Linked DNA regions of Homo sapiens. The protein of the gene in region 2 interacts with the protein of the main gene of each other region in a pairwise test. Each region holds a gene or a part of one and is shown on either strand. Other genes may lie near its edges. The genes, in order: DYSF and SLC12A6.

Region 1 (3,814 bases), on a different chromosome or scaffold from region 2:
GGGGCTAAGGCAAACCAGACACCAAGCCCCAAGCCCACCCCACCCCCAACCAGTCTTGTGAAAGAAGAAGCAGTTCCACGGGCCCCACCCACTGCTTCTCAGCTGCCTCTCCCTCCAGAAGGCTGGGCTGGAAGCAGCACCCATACCCCGTCCACCCTCCCCGCCCACCCAGGCATATCCCCCTTCACAGTCACTCCCTGTTCAGGTACTGTAGAGATACACACACTGACACTGCTGTGTGGTTCCAACTGTTTTATACTGAAATATGTCTGAGCTGATCCAAAAAAGCGTTGGGTTGGGGGAGAAGGAAATGATGGAAGTGGGGTGATCTCAGAGCTCCATGTTAGCAACTCTGGGAGTGTGGGCCGGTCCATCTGTCTGTCTGCCCACCCTGGCAGGACAATCAGGCCTAGGAGGTCTGGAGGAGCTCGCCGAGCTGGGCGGAGGAGGCAGGCCAGTCCCATGCTGGAGGGGACCCCACGGCCCCTTCTACAGGGCAGGAGAGTCCTCAGCTGAAGGGCTTCACCAGCTTCATGGCAGCATAGTTCTGGAGGGAGGGAGGAGACAGGGACCCATGGTGATCCCACTGGGGCAGGCACAGCCAGAGCAGCTGTCCCAGACCTGGGGCTCAGAGGATGGGGCTAAGCTGCCAACAGGCAAGAGGCTGGGAGAGGACGCTCGTGGCTCTTCAACCACCTGCCCACGCCTCGCCCTCACCACTTGCCATCCATACCATGTGGGGCTCAACACTCCGCCCTGCCTAGTGCTCCAGCCCATCAGGCAAACCCATACCCTCCGAAACTCCACCCGCACCCTCCCACCTGGGGGCCAAAGCTGCCCAAATTGCTCTGTCTTCTCCCCCATCAAGCCAGGCCCATTTCCAGGTTCCAGCTGACTGCCCAGAGGACTCTGAGCACCCTGGACCTGGCCTCTTCCATCAGACAGGTGCTGAAGGTGGGGCCCAGGGTCCTCCCCCACATGGCAGCCCAGGGCTTACGGGTCATCACACCCCTGTCCAGAAAGCAGAGAGAGAGTTGGGGATGGGCTGTCGTGGATGACCCACGGCACAGCCCAGCACTAGAGACAGGGCACCCTTGATTGAGCCCTGCCTGCTGCAGGATTGACAGTATCCTCCCCTCCCCACTTCTCCCCCCAAAAACCATGAAAACACATACAACACAATACAGGGCTCCTAATTGGGACAGTATGTTCCCCAGCGCCGGCTGGGGAAAGCCAACTCTGGAAACAGAGCCGGCCCTCCTTCCCCGCCAAACGCCTCCTGCCTCCCCACGCTGGCCCTGCTCCCGGCTGGCTCTGAGGGGGAAGCTGAGAGGAATCAGACAGGCTGCCCCCTCATACCCCTCCCAAGGGAATTTCCAAGAGGGTAGGGGATTAGGCCAACTGGAGGAAGCTGCCCTGTCCTTGGGCCCCTCTCCACTAGGCCCTGGCTTGGGGCAGGCAGCCTCTGTCCCATGGCCTGAAAGCCAGGTGAGGGTCACCAGGGCCCGGCCCTCATCATCTGGTACTGGCCAAATGAATGAGTGACTTGGGTGGAAGGAGGCAGGATGTGCTCAGCTTGTAGCAAAGACCTGTGAGCAAAGCCAGTCTGCAGCCTCAGGCCCAGGCCACCCCCTTCATCCCTAGACCCCTTACCTAGGATCTGACATCCCCACACCAGCCCTGGGAGAGGGGAAGCAGGGTCCATATTTTAAAGAGGACAACTTCCAGAAGAACTCAAAGGAGAGTGGCCCGCTGCTGGGGGGACAGGAGACAGGGAGGAGCTCTGACCAGGCCCCCCACAGTACCACTCTGCTTCTGCCCACAGCGATGAGGAAGGACCACAGGCTGGAAGTGACTGGAAATCTTTCCTTCCTCTCCCAGCCAGGCAGCAGGGCCTCCTTCCCCAGGCCCCTGGAGGCCTAGATCTGCTGCCCAGTAGCCTAGCAGTGCAGGGTGCAGCTGGCAGGGGCTGGGCTTAGGCATGTCATGGGTGGTGGTGATGCCACTTTGGACCTGCCTTTCCCCTCCCCTTGGCTTTTCAGAAGGAGGCTTGGCTTAATATACAGCAGCCAGGGAAGATGACAGTGCTCCCCTAAGCACAGTCCCAGCCACAGAAGGCCAGAGCTAACCTAGTGCAGCCCCTTCCTCATGTGAGCAGGAGGGATTTGCCAAGGTCACAGGAAGAGTCCATAATCCTGACTCCAGCGACAGAGCTCTGTCACATCCAACAGGGTTTCTCCAACCATCATGTGCCTACATGCAGATTCCCCCTCAGCAGGCCGGGGCCGGCCGGGGACTCTGAGTTTCTAGTGAGTTCCCTGGTGCTACTGCTGCTAGTCCTCCGACTACACCAAGGGCGAGGGTCTGCAGCAGCTCTTCTCTTCCTAAACTCCCACGGCCTGAGCCTCCCAAAAGAGCATTTGATCATCCACAGTACTTTTCCTTACTCTCTGGTTTCAATGTCTCCCCAGGGAAGTGAGCACTCCCCAGTGGCATGAGGCCTCATCCTCTTCTCCCTCATCCCCAAAACACGCCCTTACCTCCCAGACGCACACACGTGCTTAGAGTCTCTGTGGCTAACTGAACACTGGCCAGCTGGGCTCCGAATGGGAGGAGGAGCTTGAGGCAGGCTGGGAAGGGTGCCCCCTGGGCAGGAGACACCAGGCAGAAGTCCTGGGGCCTGACCCCGGATCTCAGGTCACAGCAACAGCTCATGCTGCAGGACACCACACGTGCACACACTCTTCCACAGTCCTGTATCTCAGCTTATATTTGTAATCTCGTCTCCCTTGGCTTAAAGAGGCCTCCCACATCGTACACACCTCGAGTCCCTGCAACCTAGATCTACCCTGGACCACAGTCAGATTTTGCTGATGGACAAACCTCAGAACCTCAGAAACATTTCTCCATTGCGCCTCAGGTGACCACAGCCAGCTTAGCAGGCCTGGCCTGTAGGCAGACCCTTCACCACCCTGGTTCTAGACTCTCCTTAGTCACTATGGCCCAGATGGTAGCTGGTCCGGACATCCAAACCAGACATCCTTTCCCCAGCTCCTCTCAGTTCAGCTGTTAGAACTGCATGGAAAGCTGTGTGGTTATAACTCTCTTCCTCTCTGAGATGCATTCTGCAGACATGGGCATAGCCAGCTGCAGTGGGATGGAGGGGCTCTTGCCCTTTCCTCCTCCTGGAGGACTCACAGAGCAAAGAGCTCACCTGGGGGCAGTTCCCCAAGCAGCCTGTCTGCCATGGGATCAATGCTCTGGGCCAGTGGCCTGGTGCTGACCAGGACTGAGGCCTGAAGTGGGAATCACAGTGAGCCCTGGATTGGGAGTGTGCATGGAATACTGTGCAGCCTACGGCCAGGCCCTTTCCTTCTCTGGGTGTTTGCGTCTTTGCCACCAACATAAGGTCCTCAAGGGGTGGATTACACCATTCTCTCCACTTTTATATAGGGTTGGAGTTTTCATATTAAAAAGATTTCTTTTAAATTTTAAAGAGCATTAGAAATCAGGTGTCAGCCTGAGAATGCTGCAACCCCTTCAAGGTCTAAAGTATCAGAGACACTGGGGGAGGCTCCCTGGTGATCCGGGTTCCCTGATGAGCTGTGCGGGCTGGGGAAGCACAGGCAGGGACCTTCCTCCCCCAGGCAGGGCCCCACAGAGCAAGGGCACGACAGCCACCTCTGGTATGGCCCCACAAGCTCATCAATTGGCTTCTTACCAAGTGAAAGGAAACCCAAATGGGCACCGAGCCAAGTAAGGGCTCCTGGGCCAGCCTCCCGCTCCCCGACAGCTTCCCTATGCCCACCTGCTG
Region 2 (3,814 bases):
AAAATGGGGACATATCTAAGTGAAATTTATGTTTGTTTACGTGGTTACAGATGTTAAAAGCTTGGTTCTCTATATAACACATTCCTTACTTAATGTTTAAATATTCTCCGGTACCCAGATGAAAGGGAAATTAATAGTCTGGCCATTAGAGAGGACTTTGCCCTATTCTCGTGGAACTTTATACTTTCTCAGTGACCTACCTTTTCTCTTTTTTTTTCTTTCTATATTTAAAAAAATTCTTATGATGACTGTCATCATGTGATAAATTTTCCCCACCATTAGAAGAAACCACTTAGAAACACAATTATTTCACCCTTGACTTCTCAGTATGTGAAAGCCCTTGTTAGATTTAGATGTAGATCTTCAAAGGGTGCTGTTGTGAAGAAAAGGGCCTAATGTTAATATACACTTCCCTCTAGGCTGGCTTTAATATAGATAACAACTGCATCCTTTCTACAGTTGACTCTCCTTAAGCTCATAGTGCATTTCACAGTTAGTTTGCTATTTTAGTATTTACAGTTCTCTGAATTTTTTCACCCTTTGTACATCCTTCTGTGGTTGTGACATTAGTATGATTCTCCTTTCCCCCATGCCTCCCACGTTTCTTCCTGTAGAGAAACTTCCCACCCGAAGTTTCTTGTCATATGTCTTCTACTCACATTACATCACACAAACAGGAGGTGACACATGAAGTTTTTTTTGTTTTTTTTTTTTTTGAGATGGAGTTTCACACTTGTTGCCCAGGCTGGGGTACAAGGGCGCAATCTCCACTCACTGCAATCTCTGTCTCCCGGGTTCCAGTGATTCTTTTGCCTCAGCCTCCCAAGTAGCTGAGATTACAGGCATGCACCACCACACCTGGCTAATTTTTTGTATTTAGTAGAGATGGGGTTTCATCATGTTAGTCAACCTGGTCTCAAACTCCTGACCTCAGGAGATACACCCACCTTGGCCTCCCAAAGTGCTGGGATTACAGGCGTGAGCCACAGCGCCCAGCCCTACATGAAGTTTTAAATACTTATTTCAGTATATTTTAATTTTTTCTGCTGTTGGCTTTCTGAGTAGTTTTCTTTCTGCTATCAAAGTAATTTTTCTTTCATTTTGGCAAGGCTCCATTTGAATTTATAGGACTGTCCAGTTGGTAAAATCAAGAATCTTAGCAGTGTATTAGCTTATGTATGAAGAACGCCTTAAAGATACAAAAGAAACTGTTGAGAGTGGATGCCTCTGGAAAGTGAGTTACAAAAATAGAGTGGAGCCAGGCACGGTGGCTCACGCCTGTAATCCTAGCACTTTGGGAGGCCGAGGCGGGTGGATTCCCTGAGCTCAGGAGTCCGAGACCAGCCTGGGGAACACGGTGAAACCCTGTCTCTACTAAAAATACAAAAAATTAGCCAGGCGTGACGGCGTGCGCCTGTAATCCCAGCTGCTCGGGAGGCCTTGACAGGAGAATTGCTTGAATCCAGGAGGCGGAGGTTGCAGTGAGCTGAGATCACGCCGCTGCACTCCAGCCTGGGTGACAGAGCGAGACTCTGTCTCAAAAAAAAAAAAAAAGAAAAAGAAAAAAAAATAGAGTGGAATTTTCTTTTACCAAAACAATTAAGGGCATATACAACTTTTAAGTATTTATAGTGTATCACTTTTATAGTAATTTTTTTGAAAAGCACCACATGTTAGAGCTAATGATCTAGAATCTTATTCTGATCAAACCACATTTTAATAAGTGAGGAGACTTAAAACCCCAATAGATTAGACTAAAAAAATAACAAAATAAATGAGGAAACTAAGGCTTATAGAGATGGTTATTTGTAGATCACAAAGTGGCAAAGCCAAGACTGAAGTTCAGGCCTCCTGACTTTTATCTAGTGCTCTTTCTTGCATCATTTTGCCTCTGCTATGATGAACATTTTTTACATGTGCTTTATAACCATGTGGCTATAAAACATATTTTTATATGTCATTTGCAGGACCTAATACTTTTTTTCTTTTTCTTTTTTTTTTTTTGAGGCAAAGTCTCGCGCTGTCGCCCAGGCTGGAGTGCAGTGGCGCTATCTCGGCTCACTGCAACCTCCACCTCCCTGGTCCAAGTGATTCTCCAGCCTCAGCCTCCCAAGTAGCTGGGATTACAGGCATCTGCAACCACACCCGGCTAAATTTTGTGTTTTAGGAGAGATGGGGTTTCACCATGTTGGCCAGGCTGGTCTCAAACTCCTGACCTCAAATGATCCTCCTGCCTCGGCCTCCTAAAGCTCAGGGATTACAGGTGTGAACCATACACCCTGCCTGCAGTCCCTAATACATTTCAACCTTTTATAAGTCAACAGATACTCCCTGAGACGCTGGTATGTATGAGGCAGTCTGGTATTAATTGTAGGAAATATACAGGTAACATATAGTTTCTACCTTTGCAGATCTCATGGTATAATGGTGAAAATGACTAGAGCACTTTACTTATTCCTTCACCAAATATTTGTTACTCTGAGCAATGAGTTAAGGATAAGGCACTGGCTGGCTGTTAAAGATGTTGGGTGTTAAAGACAGAGAAAAAGCATCCGTTAATCTGTTCTAAGGAAAGTTATGATCTAATAGACAAAGCAAACACATTTGTATATAAATTATAATGCTGTATAAGTCCAACAATAGAAATATGCAAAAATACGGCAAAGGAAAATGATCAACTAAGATAAAATAGAGACACTTAAGAGACTGGAGGACTTGATAAGGTAAAGTGTGGTGAAAAGTGTAGAAAGATTAAAGACTGTGGTCAGACGGTTGAATGTTGTTGGAGTGAGCAATTTCAGAGGTAGAGCATTTCTCATGTAATGTGATCTAGTGTGTAGCCTTGGAGTGGGTTTCTGAAGTGGAGAGTTGAGGTCTAAGTGTAACAACTTTGAGACTGGCTGTTAACCAAGTTTTTGTGAGAGATGTTAGAGACATAAAAGTAATTTAGATAAGTCCTTTCTTTAAGGAGTCATGTCCTCTCTGAAACCTTTTCTGATTGAACCCCATATCCAGATATAATAAACCAGGCTCTTTTTGTCCCTATATTGCTATAATACCTATATCACTATATTTTGTTTTTATTTACATATTATCTTTCTCAACTATGCTGTAGGGTTCTTGAGGACAAGGATACAAAATCATTTACACCTAGTGTAATATGTGATATCACATATAACTTGTACACCATAAATATACATTGAGTTGAAGATCTTGTAGACTTAAAAACAAGAGACAAATTAAAAACGTACTCTGATAAAGGCATATTAATGTATGTACGAGAGTAGTGCTACTTCATCTGGCTGCATAATGAATGATCTAGAGAGCTTTTCAAAAAATGCCTCTAGGCTGGGCGCGGTGGCTCACGCCTGTAATCTCAGCACTTTGGGAGGCCAAGGCGGGCGGATCACTTGAGGCCAGGCGTTCGAGACCAGCCTGGCCAACATGGTGAAACCCCGTCTCTACTAAAAATATGAAAACTTAGCCAGGTGTTGCGGTGCATGCTTATAATCTCAGCTACTCAGGTGGCTGAGGCATGAGAACCTGGGAGGCGGAAGTTGCACTGCAGCCTGGATGACAGAGCGAGACTCTGTCTCAAATAAATAAATACCTCTACCCTGACAAACAAAACCTAACAAAAAACAAAATTATCATTTTTAGTCACACACCAAAATAAGTGAATTATATTGTTTTGCTAATCATAGGTGACTATTACTTATTATTATTATTGTTATTATTATTTTTTGAGACAGAGTCTCACTCTGTCGCCCAGGCTGGAGTGCAATGGTGCGGTCTCCACTCATTGCAACCTCCG

What was found.
Region 1: the proteins of SLC12A6 (region 2) and DYSF interact in a two-hybrid assay, tested with the Homo sapiens proteins (one large-scale study listed by BioGRID and IntAct).

The regions. Positions count from the first base shown.
Region 1 is NC_000002.12:71,683,187-71,687,000, reverse strand, and holds the end of DYSF (dysferlin), read right to left. Parts: intron 548-3,814; coding exon 509-547; 3' UTR 238-508; downstream 1-237. UniProt on the Homo sapiens protein: Key calcium ion sensor involved in the Ca(2+)-triggered synaptic vesicle-plasma membrane fusion.
Region 2 is NC_000015.10:34,330,973-34,334,786, reverse strand, and holds part of SLC12A6 (solute carrier family 12 member 6), read left to right. Parts: intron 1-3,814.